Regions from separate parts of the Homo sapiens genome. Here region 1 is linked to region 2. Evidence: fine-mapped expression QTL. A gene starts in region 2. The other region holds a variant in brackets. All regions are shown on one strand. Distances are from middle to middle.

Region 1 (11,716 bases), 48 kb after region 2:
ACAAATAAAAACTTAGAAGAGGGAGAGAGGACTTGTAATTCAGTTGGGAAGGATGAGTAAGATTTATGTAGATGAATGATGAATGGAATGGGGTTGGGCCTGAATATGTGTCAGGACTTGTGGATAGAGTGAAAGTGAGAATATTCAAAATAGTCAAACAAAATATGGGAGAAGAGTAGTGGTTTTGTAAGACAAATCATTAGAGAAAAAATTGAAAGCCAGATTGGGTCCAGACTATGAAATGCTTTCAATGTAAGGCCCAAGGAGTTTGAATTTAAAGGATATTGATCTAGGAGAGAAGTAGGTGTAGGGGAAGTAGGCTGAAAGAAAGTACTGTTCTAGGAAGACTAGGAAAGATGATACTAACATTTTGAGATTGGAGGATGTTCAGGTTGTATGAACAGAAGCTATGAATTCAAGCTTAATTGATCAGTTGGAAAGGGACAATTGAGGATGAGAAATTCTGTTTCAGTTGTGTTAATCTGTCAATGTTAGACCATAGACTCATGGTACTGGTACTCAAGAGAGAAGTCAATGCTATTTACCTTTTTCTCTACAGCTTCCAAACTACAAAAACTTTAAAGGCACGATTCAAGAACTTGGTCAAAACCAGTATGCAGTCAGTGGTGAAATATTTGTAGTGGACAGAAACACAGTAGAAATTACAGAGCTTCCAGTTAGAACTTGGACACAGGTCAGTGTAAATATGTGATCTGCCTGAGGGAAGGGCAGTGTATTAAGCAATTTTTTCTGGTAAGGATGATTCCACCGTTGTTGGTCCTAAGCGTGCGTAGTGTTAAAAAATTCCTGTACCTTCTTTTACCCTTCAGTTGAATTTGTGCTTTGAATATTTAAATAGTATTTATATCTAAGTAGCGTAGTATGACTTATGTTAGGTAAGGCTTTTATAGACTATTATCTTTGTATTTATTTAAAATAAAAGGAGTAGAATATGACAGTGTTTTTAATTCTTGTAAATATGGTCAGTAAATTCATGTCAGCATCAGCTTTACAAATCTAAAAGTATGCATGTCACCTCTTGACAGTTCCAGTTGATGTCATCCTTTTCATACTCAGCCTTTATCTTGCCCTTTAGAGTATGAGTGGGTCAGCACCATTACTTCTTATGTCTTTTCCCACCACCGAGATCCCTGTGTATTGCCTTCTATACTGATTGGATAGGAGATGATAGAGATTGAGGTTTCCTTTTTAATTCCCCATGAGAGTTGAGAATTTTCAAGACTGTATGACTTGTAGTATGAGAACATGAGAGTGTGTCATGAAAAGAATCACTAATTTTTAAATCTTTATAGGTATATAAAGAACAGGTTTTAGAACCTATGCTAAATGGAACAGATAAAACACCAGCATTAATTTCTGATTATAAAGAATATCATACTGACACAACTGTGAAATTTGTGGTGAAAATGACTGAAGAGAAACTAGCACAAGCAGAAGCTGCTGGACTGCATAAAGTTTTTAAACTTCAAACTACTCTTACTTGTAATTCCATGGTAATTTATTAGATTTACTGTTAATTTAATCTTTCTTGCATGGTATAAGTCGGATTATTATAATTGGTTTCATGATGGGAGTGGCTATAGTAAGCCTGAAGGCATTTTTTTTTTTTTTTTTTTCCCATCCTGCAGATTTGCTGAAGATTCTAGGGGCACATTTCTTTCTTCTAGTATTGTCCACTACCCTTATTCTCAACTCTGTGTTTATGCATCTGGGCTTGAAAACACAGGATACACACATCTTCACACACATTGACTAAAAGTTATGAGAGTGGTTATTGCAGGGCCTTTGTGTACTTTATGGCCATCTCTATTAGCATTTTAACTGTAGAGTACTCATAACTCTAATCTGCTTTATTAAACTTGCACATTTATCTTTATTTATACAACTGGGGAGGAAGGTAGAAACTTTAAGTGTGTGATTCAAGTTCCATTCCAAATTAGCTTTTAGATCTAAAAAAGTAAAAAAAGTTCAGCAGTAGTACAGTGGCTGAGAAAAAGTGCCATAATCCGCTGAGAAAGGCTGATGGAAGAAAGAAAAAGGATAGAGAGGAGTTTGGGTGACTGGATTATAGCACAAGTAAATGTGAAAGCGAGAGAAAGGGGACAAATGCGTATACACAGAATATATGGGGGAGGAAAAACTTGAACATTTTTAAACTTAGCAATAGAATATGTATGTTTTCAGTTTGGGGAAAAATCATTTTTGTAGGTGGTTTTATGGTTACTTTAAGAGCCCTTTTTTTAAGGCCTATTTTTGTCTTTCAATATTATTCCTAAATACTTTTGTTGTGAGAATTGAATTTATTGGCTTGCAGTCACCAAAGAAATATTTACAGAAATGTGCTTAATAGTCTTAGTTCTGTTTAATGGTTTTTAGGGGTAGTCTGTGTTCACACACATGCATTATGGTTATATATTATGGTTATTTTAAGTATTGTAGATGTTATATAAGTTAAAATACCAGTACAGATCTATATGATCTGCAAAGTATATGTGTTTTGCTTAGGTACTTTTTGATCATATGGGATGTCTGAAGAAATATGAAACTGTGCAAGACATTCTGAAAGAATTCTTTGATTTACGATTAAGTTATTACGGTTTACGTAAGGAGTGGCTTGTGGGAATGTTGGGAGCAGAATCTACAAAGCTTAACAATCAAGCCCGTTTCATTTTAGAGAAGATACAAGGGAAAATTACTATAGGTAAGATACAACCTTTAAAAATTTGAACATTAGTTAAAATGGAAAAAAAACTTTATTAATAGAAGACATTTTTATCAGTAGAATATAAGCAAATACAAATTGAATCTCTTATCTTGATCCTAACTTTATTTTTCCCTCACATAGAGAATAGGTCAAAGAAAGATTTGATTCAAATGTTAGTCCAGAGAGGTTATGAATCTGACCCAGTGAAAGCCTGGAAAGAAGCACAAGAAAAGGTAATCATTTGCAGAAAAAGACATTCAGAGAAGCTTTTAAAAGCAACTTCCAAAACAAACAAAAATTCAACCCCTAAATTTTAAATTTAGTACTACTAAAGGTGCTGAGTTGTCTATTTAGAGACTAAAGTCTTCTGTTTATCCACAGAACAGATAAAGTACAGGAATTTATAGTACACACCCACCACAAAGCACTTGGCCAGTGTGACTCAACCAGAGCCTGGAGAAATGACTCCAGGTGTGAGAAGGTAGCTCAGTCTCCTTGACCTTTTTTCCTGAGTCTGCCATTAAAAGGTGTTGTGGTGGTGGTTTTTGTGAGGTACATGTATATTACCTGGGAATCAGACTGGTTGCACCCAGAATCAGCCTATGTTCACAGTATGGCATCCAGTCACCACTCACTTGATCTGGTTTTGGTTAATACTGGGAAGACAAGAGACAAAATGTTAATTATTATAGACAGTATTTATCAAACACCAAGCTCTGCCTCATGCTTAGATTTTTAGCCAGAGATTTAAACCCTGGAACTTCAGATTAAAAGTCTGATGTTTTATTAAGTAAGTTGCCCATTGCAGATCACAAAATAGTAATAATAGTTAAATGAATGGGATATTGAAGCTTTGAGAGTCCCCTCAATTAGCTTTTTGATGTTTTGTATAACTAAAAGAAAAATTTAAGCAACAGTACAACATTGTGATTGAGAACAGAAATTTATTACAGAAGAGGAAGAAAAGTTGAATGATTAATTTTTTGGGTATTAGATTATTTTGTGCATATATGATTCCATAACATTAACATCTTTAAAACATAGTTATAATTGTGTGACATAACTTGAACCTTTAAACTTCCCTGTACTTGAGTTCTCAATCATAATGTTTTTGTATTTTTTATCAAACTACATTGAAATATTGCTTTTGCTTACATTTTTCAGTTTGAAGTCAATAAAAGTCATATATTAAAGTGAGTAAAATTAGACTAAGTTATATAGAATAGCAATTACATATTAAGATAATAGGCTTATTCATTATTTGAAGAAAATTCGGTAGGACAAGATGGGCGCATTCAGAGTTAAGATGATTGAAGCCCTTTGTTTTCCTCTTAATGTGTTTTATTGAACCCCAAATTATGGTTTCTACAACACTTGCCTTTTGCCTTTCTGTATCACCGTTGGTTTAAACTATATGTTTTTTTTTAAAAAAAGTAACTAGTAAGCTGATGAATTTTTAATGCTTAGTCTTAAAAGATAAAGATTTCTACAGTGTCAGAATGTCCTTCTGGTGGAAGTAGAATTTATGGGTAAAGCCTAGCTTGATTTCAGTTATTGCATTACCACCATCAGAATTTTTTCAGCATCTTGGCCATGTGTACATTTTGGGGAGTTCAGGTAACAAAAGGAACTGCTCTTACAAGAGTGTCCTATTATACAGAGTTGGAGAAAAGAGAATTATAAAGTAGCTAATTAGAAGATTAAAGTTTTTTGTAAAGCATAATGGAATTTTGTCATTAGAACTTGCAAAGTTTATTTTTTTTTTTAATTTCTGGAAGTGTTCTTAGTCATATTTATGTTAACGGTGATAGATACACATATTCATAGAACACTTCTTAACAATACTTTGGGTGTAGTCAAAACCTAGATCTAATAGACTAGACCCACTAAATGTGGGTCTAAACAGGATTTTGTTGTATCCTAGTGATATTTTTATAGTTGTCTAACAACCTGAATACTCCATAGAAACAAGCTGTTTCATGAAGAATTTTTCAAAAGTGTAGAATTATTTATTGTAAGTTATCTAGGTACTTATTAATCATCTATCAACTCAACAATAGCATTCCGTATTTGGCTAATGTGGCTTAATCAAATTTATAGTTTTTGTTTATATAATGAAGCATCTTGCTTTGCAGTTTTAATTTTTATCTTACTTCTGAAGTACACGTAAACTGTACTTTGTGTATATACATTGTTTTGCTTACAAATTTTAATTATAAAGCTTTTTTTTTTTTTTTCCTCTTTTGGTTACCAAAAGTAAACTTTTTGCTTTATGGAGTGTCATGGTTAACTCAGTCATTTTAAATTAAACAACTTAGATAAAATTTTATTTAATGGCTATTGTTATTTTAAAAAATTTAAAGGTGATATCACCTAAAATAACTTTTATTAAATTCATTGTATTTTGAAATTTAATATTAGCACAAAATAATTTTTTTGTTGCAGCTGTTTCTATAGACAAGGGCCTGATGAATAAAATTTCAGCAAAACCCTGACGAAATTCTTACTCTAACTCACCAACTCTTAAATTCTTAAGTGGACTTTCTCTGAGTCCTGACATGAATATTCTGGCTTTAGAGAAGTTTTTATTAAGAATTCACCCTCAGCGAGTGAATGTACCTTAACATATTTATTATAACTGTAAAATAATTTTCATAACTGGTATTTATTTTGTATTTCAGATTGTTCATTCACTCACCAGTATAAAAATCTGACAAGATGCAGTGATAAAACATTAATTCTACTCTCTTAACTTTAAAATGTGGTATCCTCTCATTTTGTTACTGAGTACCTGAGGAAATCAGTTAATTTTTCATCAGATTCCTGGATAAATAGGGATAGTGTATACCATTCCTTCTGAAGATCTTATTGTGCGTCTTTAGAAAATTTTAAACTTTTTATAAGGAAATATATTTTTATAGGTAATCCAAAATAACCCCACCATCCTGAAGATGTAGCATTTATAGTGTAGCACTTGTAGAATTTTAAACTAATTATTCAATAAAATTCAACATTAATTTGATACTATACAAGACTTTAATATACAGTTTGTTATTTTTTACAGGCAGCAGAAGAGGATGAAACACAAAACCAGCATGATGATAGTTCCTCCGATTCAGGAACTCCTTCAGGCCCAGATTTTAATTATATTTTAAATATGTCTCTGTGGTCTCTTACTAAAGAAAAAGTTGAAGAACTGATTAAACAGAGAGA[T/C]GCAAAAGTATGAACTTTTGTGGGTTAAATAGTTTGAAACTATTTCAGTGTTATCTGTATCTTTTTCTTTTTCCAAAAATAAGTATTTTGATTTATCCTTCATATGTTTTAAAACTATTGAATGTTTAAACTGTACTTTTTTATTATAGGGGCGAGAGGTCAATGATCTTAAAAGAAAATCTCCTTCAGATCTTTGGAAAGAGGATTTAGCGGCATTTGTTGAAGAACTGGATGTAGGTTAAGTCTCTATTAAAATTTATTTGGAAAAGTCATGTTTATGAACAAGAATGAAATTCTTTTAAGTGATCTTAAAGTTTTCTTTAACTCTGTGAAGGTTAATATGTTTATAAGTTGAGTTAGGCTTAAGCTTCTAGTTATGTGAAGTTATAAAGAACTTCTTGTATGGAGGAATTTAAATGCTATGAAATTGAAATTTAGAATAAATTAAATCTGCTTTCAATTAGTTAAAAATTTTTAACTGAGTTTTAGATTAAATAATTGATTCAGTTTAATGTTTTCCTGGAAAGAGGTAAGGCTAATATGTGTGTATAATTGAATGTAAGTACTTTGATTTTAGGAGTAGAATGATAGTCTCTACATTTATAACAGACATTTCAATATTTGATTGTTATAACATAGTTTTTTCCAAGTAGAATTCTAATTTAAAAAATAAAAAAAATGTAGAGATATAAAAAGCACACCTTTTCTAAAATTGCCCAATTAAAATATTGGAATTAATGGTAGCATTATGAATACCTGATTTTTGAGTAGCAAAATGTAAAATACCATTTATTACTCATACTACTTTTTTTTTTTAAAGTTGCTTTGTTGATTTATTGTCTACATGCTCTACTTTTACTTCAGTGGTCTAAGTCAGAATTAGAACTCTTAAGAACAAGTGTGGTAAATTAGCTGCCTAAAAGAATTTAGAATTTTTTAGTGCTATTTTTCTAGGCTCCCTCAACGATCTTTCAAGTGCTGCAATGTGAGTCTTCCTTTTTTTGTGCTTTCCGTATATTGTTCATTAATTAGTTTTTTTGCACATTGTTTCCTGCTGAGTTATAATTTATTTAAAAATTATTCATTAAAAATGAAGCCATCATATATTAAAAGAAAAATTATTCCTAATATTATTGATATCCTGATATTGCTTTAAATTTGGTCACTAATATAGTGAAACACAGGAAACTTTTGTGGTTATGCCTGTACATTTCCTCACTATTGAAAAGTCGTCATTCAAAACAACCCTAGCAAAAAATACTCTTTCACTTTTAATTTATCATCTTATTTTATTATTTGACAATTAATGAAATAGGTCCAAACAACTTATTTAAATTCTGGATGTATTTATTTTTAACATTTAAAAAGATTTAGACTTAAATTTCATGTCTCTCTGTATCATTTAAAGTCTAATGATAACATTAATTGAATATCTATTGTACACTGGCACAGCCTTCTATGTAATGCTTAGAGTGACCCTCACCACAACTTCAAATGAATGAGGTTATCATTAACCTGTATTATACAGATAAGGATCCTGAAGCTTGGAGAGGTTAAGTCACTTTCTTAGGAATTATATCATTATAGAATTACTCATCTTCTCAGACACCCACTTTCCTCATCTATAAAATGGGGATCACAGGATTTTTTAAATGCCTAGCACATGGTGGATGCTCTATAAATTATCTGGCTTTTTTGTTTTTTTTTTTTGAGACATGGTCTTGCTCTGTCACCCAGGCTGGAGTGCAGTGGTACAATCATGGCTCATTGCAGCCTCAACCACTTGGGCTCAAGCAGTCCTCCTACCTTAGTCTCCTGAGTAGCTGGGACATGTGTGCCACCACATCTGGCTAATTTTTGCATTTTTGTGTAGAGATGAGGTTTTGTTATGTTGCCTAGGCTGGTGTCAAACTCCTGGGCTCAAGTGATCCACCTACCTCAGCCTCACAAAGTGCTGGGATTACAGGTGTGAGCCACTGCAACTGGCCTCTGTTATTTCCTGAGGATACATAACTAGTAAGTGGAAGTGCAGTTGAAATCCAGAACTATCTGATTTCAAAGCTTGGGTAATTTCTATTAAACTGTTGTGCTACAAAGATCTTTTAAAAAAATCTCTAAAGAAATGTCATTTTTTCCTTGTGCCTTTCAAAGCTTATTTTAAGGAATAATTCTGGTAAATGCAAAATCTAGGATATTAATCATGATTATATCCTAATTTATCATTACATAGACCTGCCTGAGTTCAATCTAATTATATTGGCACTTTTAACTTCTCATACTTTCTGACTTTAATTTACATTTAGGAGGTTTTTTTTCATATTTTCTATTACGACTAAAGCAATAGAAAAAAATAACTTCATACTTATTAGCAGAACTGCCTTTGTATATGATTTGCTAGGATTTTGATGATACTAGGTTATCAGAGGTCTTGATTCCATAATATATCACGGGATCCAAGAATTGGCAGAGACTTCTCAGGTCATTTAGTCACTATTGCCCCCTCGTATTACAAATGGGAAACTAGTTAGATGAATTGGGATTACAATCCAGGTCTTCTGATTTAGAATTCTTTATTTTTTTTCCATTATTTAATCTTGAATTAGATAAGTTAAAAGGAAAGCTTTATTCTTTACTGAGTGAATAACATTTGTTTCAGTATTTTATGAAGTAGTGATTATCTTTTCTAAGAAGTTGTTTATGTTCCTTCTGCCTTATGATTATACTTTAGAAAGTGGAATCTCAAGAACGAGAAGATGTTCTGGCTGGAATGTCTGGAAAAGCAATTAAAGGTAAAGTTGGCAAACCTAAGGTGAAGAAACTCCAGTTGGAAGAGACAATGCCCTCACCTTATGGCAGAAGAATAATTCCTGAAATTACAGCTATGAAGGCAGATGCCAGCAAAAAGTTGCTGAAGAAGAAGAAGGTATGACATACCTCTTGTCATTGATAGACTCATTTCTATAATGAAATATATGTATAATTTAAAAAATTTTAATGCGTGTTTAAATCATGCTTTGTTTTATTCAAAATATATTTCAATGGTAATAGGAAATCCTTCTATGACAGCAGTTGATCTATAGAAGGAAAACATATTGGTAAAGGATCACATATTGTAAAGAGCTACTTAATTCAGCTTTTAAAATGAGAAATAGAAACACTCCACTCAGCTGCCTTCTAAGTTAAAATCTTGGAAGCCGGCCGGGCACGGTGGCTCACGCCTGTAATCCCAGCACTTTGGGAGGCTGAGGCGGGCGGATCATGAGGTCAGGAGGTCAAGACCATCCTGGCAAACATGGTGAAACCCCGTCTCTACTAAAAAATACAAAAAATTAGCTGGGCGTGGTGGTGGGCGCCTGTATCACAGCTACTTGGGAGGCTGAGGCAGGAGAATGGTGCGAACCCGGGAGGCGGAGCTTGCAGTGAGCCGAGATTGTGCCACTGCACTCCAGCCTGGTTGACAAGAGTGAGACTCCATCTCAAAAAAAAATAAATAAATAAAAATAAAAATCTTGGAAGCCAAAACAAAACAAAACAAAAACCTCCAAAAACCCAACCATAAGTATATCAACTTTAAAGTATAAACTTTAGTGCTACATCATAATCCATTAGAGAAGACTTAGAGTGGGAAAGGGTCTGTTTGGCTTACAAAGTACTCTGTCATCTTTTACTATTTACTTGTGTTTGTCCTTAAACTACCAAGCACATCCTGTGTCATTGGCACTGATAGGTGCTATTGAGGATTAAAAAAAAAAATGGCGTTGACCTAACCTCAAGCAGGATTGACCAGAGTTAGCCGGAAGAAGGAAACATCAGAAAAAATGTTCAGAGCTGAGGAAACAGGGTGCATGTTGGTCTTAGAGAGGCTAATGTTTTTGGACAGGTTGATTTTTACAATCCAGAAAGTATACGTTTAGATGTGTCCAACAAGTAGGTGGGAATATAGCCTCATTCTTACTAGAGCTTGGAAAATGAGCCTAAAGAGCTAGAGTTAGAGATTGGAGAGTTCTCTGTGCAGAGCTAATATTTGAAGCGTAGGTGCATTTTGACACCAGAGTAGCCTTTCTCTTCTGTTCTGATAAACTCAGGTCTCTACTACTTTCCTCTTACTTGGCTCCCCACGGCACACAGGTTCATTTACCCAGATACTCTTGCCTGTCTCCCTCGGAAGATGGTTTCTTTTCAGTTGGCGTTTGTCAGATTCATTTCTCAGCATTCTTTTCTCTACCTTATATGGTCCCCTCAAGTAACCTTATCTATGCCCAGAGCTTATTCCATTCATACTGATGGCCCCTAAATCTGTGTTCCTAAGCTATAATGCTTTCAGGAGTGCCAAGCTCATAGCCACTTGAATGCTTGAAGCCCATCAAACTCAGCATGTCTGAAACTGGATTCATTATCCTGATTTCAAAATCTGTTCTTTGCCTTATCCCAGTTAATGACACTATCAGCCATCAATGATATAAGCCAAAAACCTGGGAGTTTTGTCATTTAATCAGTAACTAAGTCCTATTGACTGCCTACTAAGTAATTCCAAAATCCACCCCCTTATCTTGGTCCCCATTTGACATTGCCTTAGAATTTTGTGTTTTCTCTGAGATACTTTAAAGTGGTCCTCTTAACTCTCTGTTTCTAGTCATTTAATCATGATTTCTCCCCTTTTCTACTTCATTCCTTTAAGTTCTATATTTTACTACTAGAATGAAAATTCTAAAAAGTCAGTCTGATTGTTAGGCTTAAAAATCTTCAGTGACTCCCCACTGACTATGCACAAATTCTTGGTATACAGTGTTAGCACCTGTATGCCTCTGTGTGTTTCTTCTCCTGGCTACTTTGTTCTCACTTTTCCTTGAGTTCTAGCAGACTATTACATTTAAAAACCTAATTCTTTAAACATTTAATTCCTGTTAGATGGCTTTGTGCCTTCTGCCTGGGATGCCCTTCCCTCCTTAATTCCCACCTGGCAAACCTATGTGTTTCCTTTAGAACTCAGTCAGAAAAGGTACTTCTCCATGGAGACTTTTTTGACCCTGCCTTGAGCAGAGTTTCTCACTTCTCCCCTTGGGCCATGGCTGTACCAGCCTCTATATTTGTTATTTGTATTGTAATGACTCATCCTTGTTGTGTGCCTCTGTGTTTTTTGTTTTTGTTTTTTTACCCCATGGTCTTAGGGTTGGGGTCTACCTTACAGTGCCTAGCAGTGCAAGACACATGTTACTTATTTTCCTTCAATAATTTGAAGATTTTTTTTTTTTTTGAGACAGAGTTTCGCTTTTGTTTCCCAGGCCAGAGGCTCACCGCAATCTCCGCCTCTCAGATTCAAGCAATTCTCCTGCCTCAGCCTCCTGAGTAGCTGGGGTTACAGGATTTTTTAATGGTATATAAAGGCCTGCCTGAGCTATAGAAACTTATTTTGCAGGTACCTTTTAGCTAGTGGTCTGGAAATCCCTCTGATAATCAAAAGCTGCCTTCTTATTTTTTATGGTTGCTTCTAAGTAGCTGTCATTTCACTGAATGTACTGGAAAATTAAGAGTTACATGCAATATTATTTACTATAGATAAGTGAAGTAAAACATGGTCTGATCAAAGTCAGCTGTTAGGACCTCATCAGAATCACTGTTTTTAAATTTACCTGATTTGAAGGCGCTATCTGTTGATTGAAACTATCTCTAAAATATGTGATGTTTTTATTTTTACTCGTGGCTTGATTTTCTTTTTATTATGTAGGGTGATCTTGATACTGCAGCAGTAAAAGTGGAATTTGATGAAGAATTCAGTGG
Region 2 (11,716 bases):
GTGGTATACCCTTTATTGAATAGGCTAGTCTTACTCTTTTACTTTTCCCAAACAACATTTAAAATGGAAATATATTCCTTAAAGAGTCTGCATTTCTCAGCCTCCTTCTGGATCTTTCCACATTTTGACAATCATCTCAAAGAGGAAAGCTGATAGATAAAGATACTAGTTATATATGACATCTGGGCTGACCTCTTAATTCTTAAGAAACAGAAATAATTTGCTATTTTCTGTTATTAATTGGCATACTAAAAGATGGTATCTTTTCGAATTTTTGATTTTTAATTACCACCTTACATAACTTGCAGGTACCTTTTTTGTTTTGTTCCTCCCAAAATGCTAGAATTACAGACAAGTGCCACTGTGCCCGGCCATTCCCTACTCTTCTGAAATGAAAACAGTCGAGTTGGGAAAGCCACTGCTGTCTCATTTTTTAAGATGTGAGTCTTATAAACCTATGAAGTAACAATATCAGATGACTGTGGGCAACCAGAAACTTCAAATACAACTTAGTAATACACATGATAGATTGTGTATCTTGTTGGTGAAGGGCAGGTGCATGATAACATCTAATGTCCCCCAAAGCAGAATTTTCTCAAAACAAGATGCATCTTTGAAAGTCCATCCAATTATTAGACATTTTTACAAAGGCCAAGAGCAACTTTCTTAAGACACATGCTAATTTTATTCTCCACGTTGTATGAAAACCCTGAATTATTATTGAGAACCCTGAATTACTGAGAACCCTGAATATTATTGAGCTATATCATATAAGTGAAAGTGTCCCTTCTGTCTGTATAATTAGAATGTCACCAGAAGATCAGTGTAGCTTATTTGACCAAAACCAATCTAAACAAACTCCTGCAAAACAAAAAATCAAAACAAATACTGTACCCTGTAATTATTGCAGGTAGAAATTGAAGAACTTTACCTGCTGTCTGTCTTCCTAGTGGTAATAATACTCAGGAATATGATCATTGATATCTTCAGCCATCCGCAAACACTTGTTACTTTTGGTGCTTAAATATCATTTTAAAAGTAAAAATATACTTATAAACTGTAGCAATTAAATAGTTAGAAGAAGCAGAGTTAATAATGTACTATAATATTTACTAGAGAAATACTGAAAACCAAAAAGTCACATTGATAGTAACTTTTCTTCCTTGAGCTCACTTCTAAAGAACTATAACAAACTAAATTACATTTAAACATACAATAGTCATTAACTAGGCAATCACTTACTGAGTCTACCATAGGCCAGACATTAAAAATTTTTCTTAGTCCAGCAACCTTGTATATCGTAAGGATCCACAAAATTAATGCAATGAGAAGGGAGAGGTGAAATTATAGACATTGAATTTTGAATTCAAATGTTAGCTTCTTTAAATGCTCCCGAGGTTAAAGATTTGTCCTCCTCCTCCCAACTGAATCTCAGTGTTGGAATGATACACAACATTTAAATGGAAACTATTGAAACTTTGGCAGATACCTAGAAGTATGGTTTTGAGTTGCTATTTTCTTGGATAATTTACTTACTGATTAAATTACCTACTGTGTATAAAGTGTGATGATAGGTGTGGCTCATCAGGTAAATTGTTTATTTTTTATGTATATATATATTTTTGAGATGGAGTCTTGCTCTGTTGCCCGGGTTGGAGTGCAGTGGTGCAGTCTTGGTGCACTGCAACCTCCGCCTTCCGGGTTCAAGCGATTCTCCTGCCTCAGCCTCCCGAGTAGCTGGGATTACAGGCACATGCCCAGCTAATTTTTGTATTTTTAGTAGAGATGCGGTTTTGCCATCTTGGCAAGGCTAGTCTTGAACTCCTGACCTCAGGTGATCTGCCTGCCTTGGTCTCCCAAAGCGAGGTAAATTGTTTATTAAACAGCAAATGAATAAATATAAAATTGCTTTTCAATTAAATGATTAGCTTGAAACTATAATTCAAGGGTGAACTTAAGGCAGAAAATGCGTCTTCATCACCTTTTTAAATTCCCAGGTCCTGAGTACCTAACACAGTAGGCATTTAATTTTTTTTTCATTGCTACAATAAGGAAATATAAGATCTAAAAATAGAAATTCTGAAGTAGTTAGGATAAGCTCCTATGGAAGCTACTCAGAAATCTTGATTAAATAAAGACCTTTATACAGTTTATAGAAATGACTAATTTCTAGTTTTTCCTTTTGGTCAGTGCTTGCTGTGGGGTAGAAATTAAGTCATTATATGTAATATATACATACAAAGTAGTATCTAAAACTAGACAAACCTGATATAGAAGCTTTTTTTTTTTTTTTTTTGAGATGGAGTCTCGCTCTGTCGCTAAGGCTAGAGTGCAGTGGTGCGATCTCGGCTCACTGCAACCTCTGCCTCCCAGGTTCAAGTGATTCTCCTATGTCTGCCTCCCCAGTAGCTGGAATTATAGGCACAGGTCACCACGCCTGGCTAATTTTTGTATTTTTAGTAGAGAAGGGGTTTCATGATGTTCGTCAGGCTGGTCTTGAACTCCTGACCTCAGGTGATCCACCCCTAATTGAAAATTACTTCACATTACCCCAGAAGAGAAAGCTATGCTCAAGTTGCGTACAATCAATTTTATCATAAAGATATGCTAAGTCTGCTGCACAGTTAAAAAGGACAATTCTTTAGAAGCTGAGATACTTTTAATCTAGATTCCGTCTTCCACTCATCACAAATCTCTGCTTTAAAAATGTTGATTTTCATGTATATTCAGCAATTCTTATTTGCAATTCTTCTGGGTAAGTCAGTATTTTCTTAAAACTAGTAACACTTATTAAAAGGCTTTTTCATACTGAGAAGACAAAAGGACTCAATGCCTCACATATGAGGCAAGTGAAAAGAACATTATTTTTATTAATCTATTTGAGTTTTGAATATATTGTTTTATTCATTTCAAAATCTGAACCTAGGCTGGGTGCGGTGGCTCATGCCTGTAATCCCAGCATTTTGGGAGGCCAAGATGGGCGGCTCACTTGAGGTCAGGAGTTCGAGACCAGGGTGGCCAACATGGTGAAAACCCCGTCTCTAGTAAAAGTAAAAAAAATTAGCCAGGCATGGTGGCCGGTGCCTGTAATCCCAGCTACCTGGGAGGCTGAGGCAGGAGAATTGCTTGAACCTGGGAGGTGGAGGGTGCAGTGAGCCGAGATCATGCCACTGTACTCCAGCCTGGGTGACAGAGCAAGACTCTGTCTCTAAAAACAACAACAAAAACGGAAGATAAAGAGCTTTGACAACTTAAGTTTAAAAAAGGAGACAGCTATGTATTTTATAGCTTAGCTTCTACCTAGTACATCTTCATAAAAAAAACTCATTGCCTTTAAAATTACCCCTTTTCAAACAAAATACATGTGTACTTGGAGATGCAAACTCACAGTAAGAACACAAGATCATTTTAACAAGCACTAAACTGAGGCTCAGGGAAGTTAAATAACAAGGCTATGGATACTTGGTCAGGTTCAGAAAAGTTTGCACCCCAAGTTCAAGGTAAAGAAAGGCTTCACTGTTCTGAAGTCCCTAGTATGGCAAAGTTACATGGCCATCAGAGAGCTAATTAAAAAAACTATGTTTAAATTATTTCCATGTTTCAGAGTTCTCCACCTCTAGACTCAGAATGCAGTTTAAAGATGTGACCTGAGACATTTTTGTTTTCCCTTGAGAGGAAATGCACAGTTGGAAGTTCACAAAAACACCTCTTCAAAAAACAGTAATACTGTTTTCATCTTTATAAAAAGCTTTCATCACAACTCTTTGGTGGCACTTCATGCCTTCAAGTACTCATTTTGGTGATCGTTGGCTCCCTTTTAGTCTGTCTCACAAGCCAGGTTATAAATGGTTTGAAATCAGGGGCCTTGTTTTTACTTTGAACCCATCGCAGAGCCTGGCACAGCGTGGCAGAGTGTGCGCCCAATAAATACTTGAGTGGAATTACACTGAAAAACAGGAAGAAGTAAAGCCATCTTCCATCTGCCAAAGACTGTGATGTTGCTGTATTGGTAATTTTCATTCTTAGAAAGCTTTAATGTGAATGAAATTATTCCTTACTGTGCATTTGAAAATTCCACTGAAAACAGTTTTAAAAATTAAGCATGCCCTCTTAGAGGCAGGGGGCACAGTTCTGGACAGATGAGAAAAGTGACAGTGACATCTCTGCATTGTTCAGAGAAGAAAGGTCAACAAAGAGTAGAAATAGAACACTCAACCCACCCTGCATTCTTTCCCTAGAACATTCTCTGTGTGTCCCTTATCATTTAAGCTTTTCATATGTAGTTTTCTTGAAACTGACCATATGCTCTTTTGGGGTGAGGGGAGGAGACGGAAGAAGGAGATGGAGAAGGTCTGAGATGATTTTTTTCGACAGCAGCGTCCACTTAGGCCCTTGGGGAGGCCGGGTCACGGGGCCTCCTTGCACCAGTGGTCTACAACGTCTTGCCTGCGGTTTACAACCGCTCTTTTAAAATAATTTCCCTTTGGGACGGCCCCCGGCTTCTTCCTGCCACCCCCATCCCCACCCCGCCCCCATCCTCATCCTTAGAGGCCCCAGGCAAACGCTTCGGATTCCCGGTTAGGTCTCAGAGTAAACAGCACGCTTGGAGGATTACAATCGACCCGAGGCCAATTCGACCCTTTCCCTTTGCCGCCCTCAATTGACCCTTGAAGCAGCCCCTGCTCTCCCTTCAAATGGAAAACCCACAGACACACACACAAACAAAAACCCCAAGTCTTCCTTTCGGTTGCTACCCGCAATGACGTTTCCCCCCTCGGGTCCCGCCCCTCCAGGGGGCTTGGAATTTTGGGATTGGCCGAGAGGCTGTGGCGACAAGGCCCGGATTGGACAGCATGGCGCTGACTGACAGCGGGGGCGGCCGCCGCGCCCTCCCTCTCTCCCCGGTGTGCAAATGTGTGTGTGCGGTGTTATGCCGGACAAGAGGGAGGTGACCGTGGCGGCGGCGGCGGCGGCTCTGTTTATTGTCCCTCTCGGTGTGTGTGTGTGAGGAAATCGGGGCTGCAGCGAGGCTAAGGCTGCCTTTGAAGCAGCGGCGGCGACCGGGACGACTACTCTGGCGACTCGAGTGGCTGGCCTTCGCGGAGTGTGAGAAGGACAAGGCACCTCTGCGTCCTCGCCACGTCCGAGCGCCTCGGGCTCCCCGGCCGCCCTCGCGGCTCGCACGCCCGGGCTTCAGCCCGGCCTGCAGCGGCGCCCGCGGGCGGGCGAGAAGGCAACGCCGCCGCTCGGCCGCCGCCGGTCGCTCCCTGCTTTCTCCTCAGCCGCCGCGCTAGGCCCGGGCGACGCGGACGCCGCGCCTCGAGTTTGAGGGCAGCCGGCGGCGCGGCCTCCTCAGCGGGCTCGGCTGGACGTCCGCTCCGGATCTTCGCGATGGGGCGCGGGGGTCGGCGCGGCTAGGAGTGCGGCGAGTGGAGCGGTGGGTGCGGAGCGGCGGGGCCCAGCGGCCCGCAGGGAGGCGGGAGCGGCGGCTGCGGCCTCAGGGCCTGTGAGCTGGAGGCACTCGCCATGGCCAAGTCGGGTGGCTGCGGCGCGGGAGCCGGCGTGGGCGGCGGCAACGGGGCACTGACCTGGGTGGTAAGTGGCTGGTCCCCGGGACGGGCGGCTGCATTGTTCCGGGCCCGCGGCGGGGGCGGAATTCCGAACGGGCGGGGGAGGGGAAAGGGAGGGAAATCCCGTCCCCCGAACGGGCGCTCCATAGGGGCCTGTGCTTGCAGAATCCTCCAGCCCGCTCCCCGCGCCTTTTCTTTCTTTCTTTCTCTGTACGTCTCTGGAAGTCCTGACTGCCAGAGCGTAATGTGTACTTGAAACTTTGGGGGGACAAAACCGCGAACGTAACATACAGCCCCCGCTTCCTCTCTTTTCTTTTTAACCAGACTCTTCCGGGGCAGCCGAACCTGAAATGGTGGGGATGGCGATAATGCAAGTGTGTCTGTGTGGGGCAGCATTTTCTCCAAATGTAGTTCAAGAAAACCCTGGGAAAAGGGGTGTGTGTGTGTGTGTATTCTAAATGCAGCTCTTTCTGGGGCTTTAATCTCAAAGAAGAATGCATTGGGATTTCTACAGCAACTTGCACTTCAATTTGGAAAGCCTCATTCAATGCGCTCAATTGAGAGCGCATTGGGGATGACTTTCACAGCAGTTAATACTGTAGGTCGTCCCTCTGTCAGGGTGAGATTATTAAAAGAAGTGCTTGTCTACGTCAGCATCGCAGGTGTAACGGGGTGAGGGCTGAATGGATGTCCTGGAGAGGTGACTGAAGTGCTTAGTCCTGAAGTTAAAGGATTTCGACGCTCAGTTCTTGCTGGGAAGTAGAAGTAACTGCAGCGGAAGGAGGAAGGGAGACTGGATTCCCACGACAGATCGATAATTCGCCGGCATTTCACTTGCTCAGCGTAGAGTTCAGACCAGGGTCATTTCCTATACAGAAAACCTAGGTATTTCGGAGAAAAGTAAAAAGTGTTACATTTTTCTGGACTTTTGACGGTCTGTTCCCCCGTCCCTGTTTTAAATACCTCAAGGGAGCTTTCATATAGGCATTTTTGTTACTTAGTTCGTTTTCTCTTTGTTTGGGTGAGGTTTGGGTGAGTTGAATAGCAATTTGTGCTATATTGACAACTGCTTCTTATAAAAAGGGTGCTACTGACAGCAGCAAAACATTTTAATCACTTATGTTTGCGTGCCAGGGTACATTGCAAAATAACTTGCCATGCTCTTATTGTTGAAATTCTTTGAATGTTGTATATTACTCCGATTATGTAGAATGAAAGTATGAAGGGACTAGGGCCAGGAGAGAAAATGTCAGATACTAAGTTAGTGGTCCATGTGGACTTGCAGTAGAGGGTATGTGAGAGGAAGAAGGAGGAGATGGACACATACATGCAAAATAATGACTTTCAGAATTAATGGCTTTTACCCCTGTCACTAAAATCAGACATCGGAAAATTGACTTAGACAGCCAAATGGTATTGTAAGTTCTCATTCACTATTTGGAAGTGTTGAGGCCTGATCGGTGTTTCCTCTGAAGACCTCTGGTTCTATAATGGTAAACATTTTGCTCCGTAGTGGATTGTTGGCTTTAACATTTGATAGCAGTACTTTAATTAACTGTTATATAATTTTGTAGATAATTAAATGACAATTTATTTCTTTCAAGCTCCATAGGAAACTCATTGCTAATTTAGCAAAACTTGGAGCATCTCATTCAAGATAGAAAAATCCATTTGAAACTGAAATTGACTTATTGATTAAAGGAATTTTCATTATAAAGCAGATTATGGAAAATATGGGAAATGCAGTAAAATAAAGAGAAGTGAAGATCACTTAGTGTTTTATTTATAGAGTATATCTTATGGAATTAGAAGTTTATTAAAAAGATAATCACTCCTGTAAGTCTTCTTTAAGAGTTGATGCTTACTCTAAGGTTATATGAGCATCTTTATGTCCATAATATACATCATTGATCATATAGACTGGTTTGATTTTATGGGAGGCAATATAGTGAGGTAGTTATGGGCTTTGACGTCAGGCTGATGTAGGTTCAGATACTGTCTCTCCAACACATTTAGTTGGACTTTTCCCAAGGAACCTAACCTTTCTAAGCCTGTTTTTTTATCTGTCAAATAAGGTTGCATTGAGAATGAAATGAGATAACGTGTGTAGCACAGTGCTGGGCTTAATGATGTTTGTTATTATTGGTGAACTTCAAGAAATGCACACTCAAATAATAGATTGCAGTTGCTTTTACATAAAATATCTTTTAGCTGGGGTAAAAGCAAATTAATTTTTCCTTTGCACGAGTTGGGGCTTTATTGCAGTGGTCATCTGTTTTGAGAAAGGTAACTTCGTCTGCTTTATTGAAGCTAGTGTTATGTTGCCACCTGCTTGTGGTAACAGAAAGAAATAAAAATAGAATTAGCCCCTGATTTCTTTCTTCTGGGTGAGGAGTTGTATGCCATGTGTTGCTGATATTAACTACTGTTGGGATGCATGCCAGCATGTGTTGTTAATGTCATTGCATGAAAATTTGCCTTTCAATATCTGAAACTACAAAGCCAAGTGGTTTTAGGACTGGCATTAACTTATTTTAATAATTCATTTGGTTTGTGTTTGATTTGTAGGAGTATCTCAACCAGAATTTTTTATAATTAAAAAAAGTGAAAAATATAAACATGGCAAAGCTATTTTGATTTAAAATGTATAGCAGTTACAAAGGCTTCTCTTAAGGCAGCAGGGTTTCTTGAATTAATTCTTTGTAGAGCTTTGATTAGTAGATAGTAATAGTCTGGTTCATTCTGTCAGTCTTGTATCATAAGTGATTGTAACAAAGACATTTGTGGAAATACTAGAATACAGTTATATGACTTAATCTTTTTCCCAACAATATTCTAACTTGGTAGATTAAAAAAAATTTTTAATGGAAAATGTTAAGCATCTCAAAAAGTGGTAACCAGAGTAGTATAACAAGCTTCCCTCTATTTAGCCTTAAGCTTCAATAATTATCAACCTGCCGGGTGCGGTGGCTCACGCCTGTAATCCCAGAACTTTGGGAGGCCAAGGCAGGCGGATCACCTGAGGTCAGGAGTTCATGACCAGCCTGACCAACATGGAGAAACCCCATCTCTACTAAAAATACAAAATTAGCTGGGGTGGTGGCGCATGCTTGTAATCCCAGCTACTCGGGAGGCTGAGGCAGGAGAATCGCTTGAACCTTGGAGGCGGAGGTTGCGGTGAGCCGAGATCACGCCATTGCACTCCAGCCTGGGCATCAAGAGTGAAACTCCGTCTCAAAAAAAAAAAAAAAAAAATCAACCTAAGACCACCCACTTTATCCCTTCTCATTCTTTTGAAGCAGAGCAAATCCTAGAATTTTATCACTTTCTCTGTAAATATTTCAGTATTTATCTCTAACAGTAAAGTCTCTTTTTGAAAAACTGTATAACCACAAATAACATTGTAGTTTTCTCAAAAGTCACATTTTTTGAAATATATAACATATTTTTGGAGTGTGAATATCTCTAATTAAACATGACTATGTATTTAAATATTGTTTAAAGATTTATTTTAAGAACCTTGCTTTAGTGGTTTACTGTTGCGAGTCTAAATTGCTGAGCCAGACTTTCATAAACTATGTGCCCTTTCCAATGAAATTTATTTATTATAGTCTCCATAGTTAGATTTATCTCTTCACTGTCCCCTACACAAGTTAGGCTTGTTTTTGTCACTTTGTCTTTACATATTTGCCTTCCATCTGGAATTACTTTTTCACTTCTCTTTACTAGTCTAAATCTTAACTGTTCTTCAGGGCTAGCTCAGAGCCTTGTCACATTATTATTTTCCAGTTGATACTCATCTTTTTCTTTCATTGAATGTTTGTTACTCTCATGAATCATAAAACAGAAGTCTTTATTTTTTATGTAACTTTCATGCATGATAACTTTGCCTTAATATTACAAATTTCTGAAGTTAGAGAGCATGTATTTTCCTTGTTTATGTCCTTCAGAGTGTTAAACAAAGAACTGGATACGTAATCCAGTCTCAGTTATTTAAAAATTGGATAATTGACATGCTGACTTCCTAAAAAGTCTTCTGTCATTAGTAGGACAAGAGTTTAAGTAGCAGTGTTTTTTAGATACATTCTCAAGTACATGATATAGCAGTATTTAGGCACGTTTTTAATAAACTTAATTTTTCTGAATCGAAGTATGTTCACCTGTAATCCCAGGTTTGTTGGTTAGGTGGTGGCAACAATTGCATTTTACTGAGTACACTTTAAAAAATAAACTTCTTGAATTTTTAAAAGTATTAACACGTATAGAACCCCATTTTAACGAAAAGTTGAAGTAGCTATAGTTATTCCTATTTGCAGAGAAGGAAACGGGTTTAGAGATTAGGTAACAAATTCTTAGGCACATGGTTAAGGCACAGGTGGAATTTAAACCAGACTCAGTGTTCTTAACATTTACACAGCCTTCAACTTTAAAAACATTGAAAGACAAAACAACTCATCTTTTATACTCTGATAAGACAGAATAAGGAGACATCTGGGATATACCTGTCTTTTTCTACTAACCTTTTACTTTCATACAAAAAGCTAAGGAGTATATTTCCTTTTCAGAATATGTGTACTTAGTATAGCATAATGCTAAGAGTATGGGCTGTGAAATCAGATCATCTAGTTTCATAATTCACCTTTGTCAAGTACTAGTTTTGTTAGCTTTGGGAAAACACTTATCCCAACCTTAGTTATCTCATCTGTACAAAGGGAATTATAACAGTGTCTATTTCATGGAGATACTATATAAGAATTAATTAAGATTATCGTAGTGCTTGGCACATAGTAGCTCCCAGATGGGTTCACACATACATTCTCCCTTCTTTTTTAATCCAGTGATAAGTATTTTCATTCCCTTTATTATAGAGAAAGCCTATTTTCATAGCAGAAGTCTAAGCATTTGTTACTGTCTTAAGTATCTCTTATCTCTTCCTTGCCCCTTTGTTTAGAAGGGTATTTCTGAAGGAGCATAGACAGGGGACAGTTTGTTGCTTTTTGCTTCATTAATGGTGGGTAGATAACATGGCCTCTCCATTTACATATAGGTGAAATATGGTTAGAATGAACATCATGGGATGGCAGCCTTGAGGGAGAAAAGAGAGAGGAGACATTATAAAAGGTTGGTGTTAAGTCTGAGGGGATTGTACAGAAGAAGGTAAAAGAAGGGGCTCGTTGCTAGGCTGCCAGCCCCCACTTCCACTCTTGTTGGCCTGGTGATGGTGAGCTTTCTGTGTTGATTATGTGAATGAGTGGCTCAGTTCTTTTTTAGTACCAACTGGCAAACCATCTCCTTTACCCTGTTTGTCAGCAATTCATTCTCCCTCAGAAAAACAAACTGGGTGCTTCTGCCAAATTGCTATATTTCAGGTGACAATTCTGTCCATTGAAGAATCTTTTGTTTTGTTTTGCAGAATGATCTTGGTGTATAGTCGTTCTGAAAAATAGGAAGTTTTACTGGAATGTTTTCCATTTTCTTCTGAAGACTGAGAAATGTTCTTGAAAAAGATCAAATCTTGGATTAGTATTAAATCTGTTTTTTTATTAGGCATTAGCAATATTGCAAAAGTGCCATAAGATAGGTTAATATTTAAAATATATAGTCTATATAGTTATTTTGGTATTTTTGTTATAATTTTAAATTTTCCCTAAATGCTTTGTTTAATTTGGCAGCTGACTTGAAATTCAGAAAAAGTCAATGATGTTATCATCATATTTATAAATGAAAAAGAATATAATTAAAACAACTTTTAGATATGTGTAGGAAATTTAATATGGTGATTATTTTACACTTTTATTGTCTTCATGATAATGAAAATGTAGCCTTGATTTTTTAGATTCCAATTTAATTGGATGCTGGCATTGTTTATTACTATCAGTAGTTTGGTAATTTGTTCACATAAATTAAGGCAGGGAAATAAATTACAAATAAACTTAACAAGTTTTCAATCGTTAGTCTCAACGCAAATTTATTCAAAATGCTTTTGGTAAATAATAATAATAATTATTATTATATATTTTTTGAGATGGAATCTCGCTCTGTTGTTGCCCAGGTTGGGGTGCAGTGGCGCTGTCTCGACTCACTGCAAGCTCTGCCTCCCGGGTTCTTGGCGATTCTCCTGCCTCAGCCTCCTGAGTAGCTGGGAC

Evidence for each region.
Region 1: its variant is fine-mapped to the expression of TOP2B in whole blood (TOPMed, PIP above 0.99).

Annotation. Positions count from the first base shown.
Region 1 is chr3:25,609,660-25,621,375 of GRCh38, reverse strand. TOP2B (DNA topoisomerase II beta) reads left to right here. Exons shown (of 36, transcript NM_001330700.2): 22 at 560-694; 23 at 1,314-1,514; 24 at 2,527-2,722; 25 at 2,867-2,958; 26 at 5,790-5,945; 27 at 6,088-6,171; 28 at 8,667-8,861; 29 at 11,664-11,716. Among named protein-coding and RNA genes, the nearest start is that of TOP2B, 49 kb to the left of the region's middle. The variant T/C (reference allele first, on the strand shown) is at 5,939.
Region 2 is chr3:25,658,108-25,669,823 of GRCh38, reverse strand. TOP2B (DNA topoisomerase II beta) reads left to right here and starts at 4,917. Exons shown (of 36, transcript NM_001330700.2): 1 at 4,917-5,595. The coding sequence starts at 5,527. MIR4442 (microRNA 4442) reads left to right here and starts at 4,885; the gene lies at 4,885-4,951. RefSeq lists enhancers at 4,617-5,180, 6,138-6,267 and silencers at 5,348-5,707, 5,662-5,850.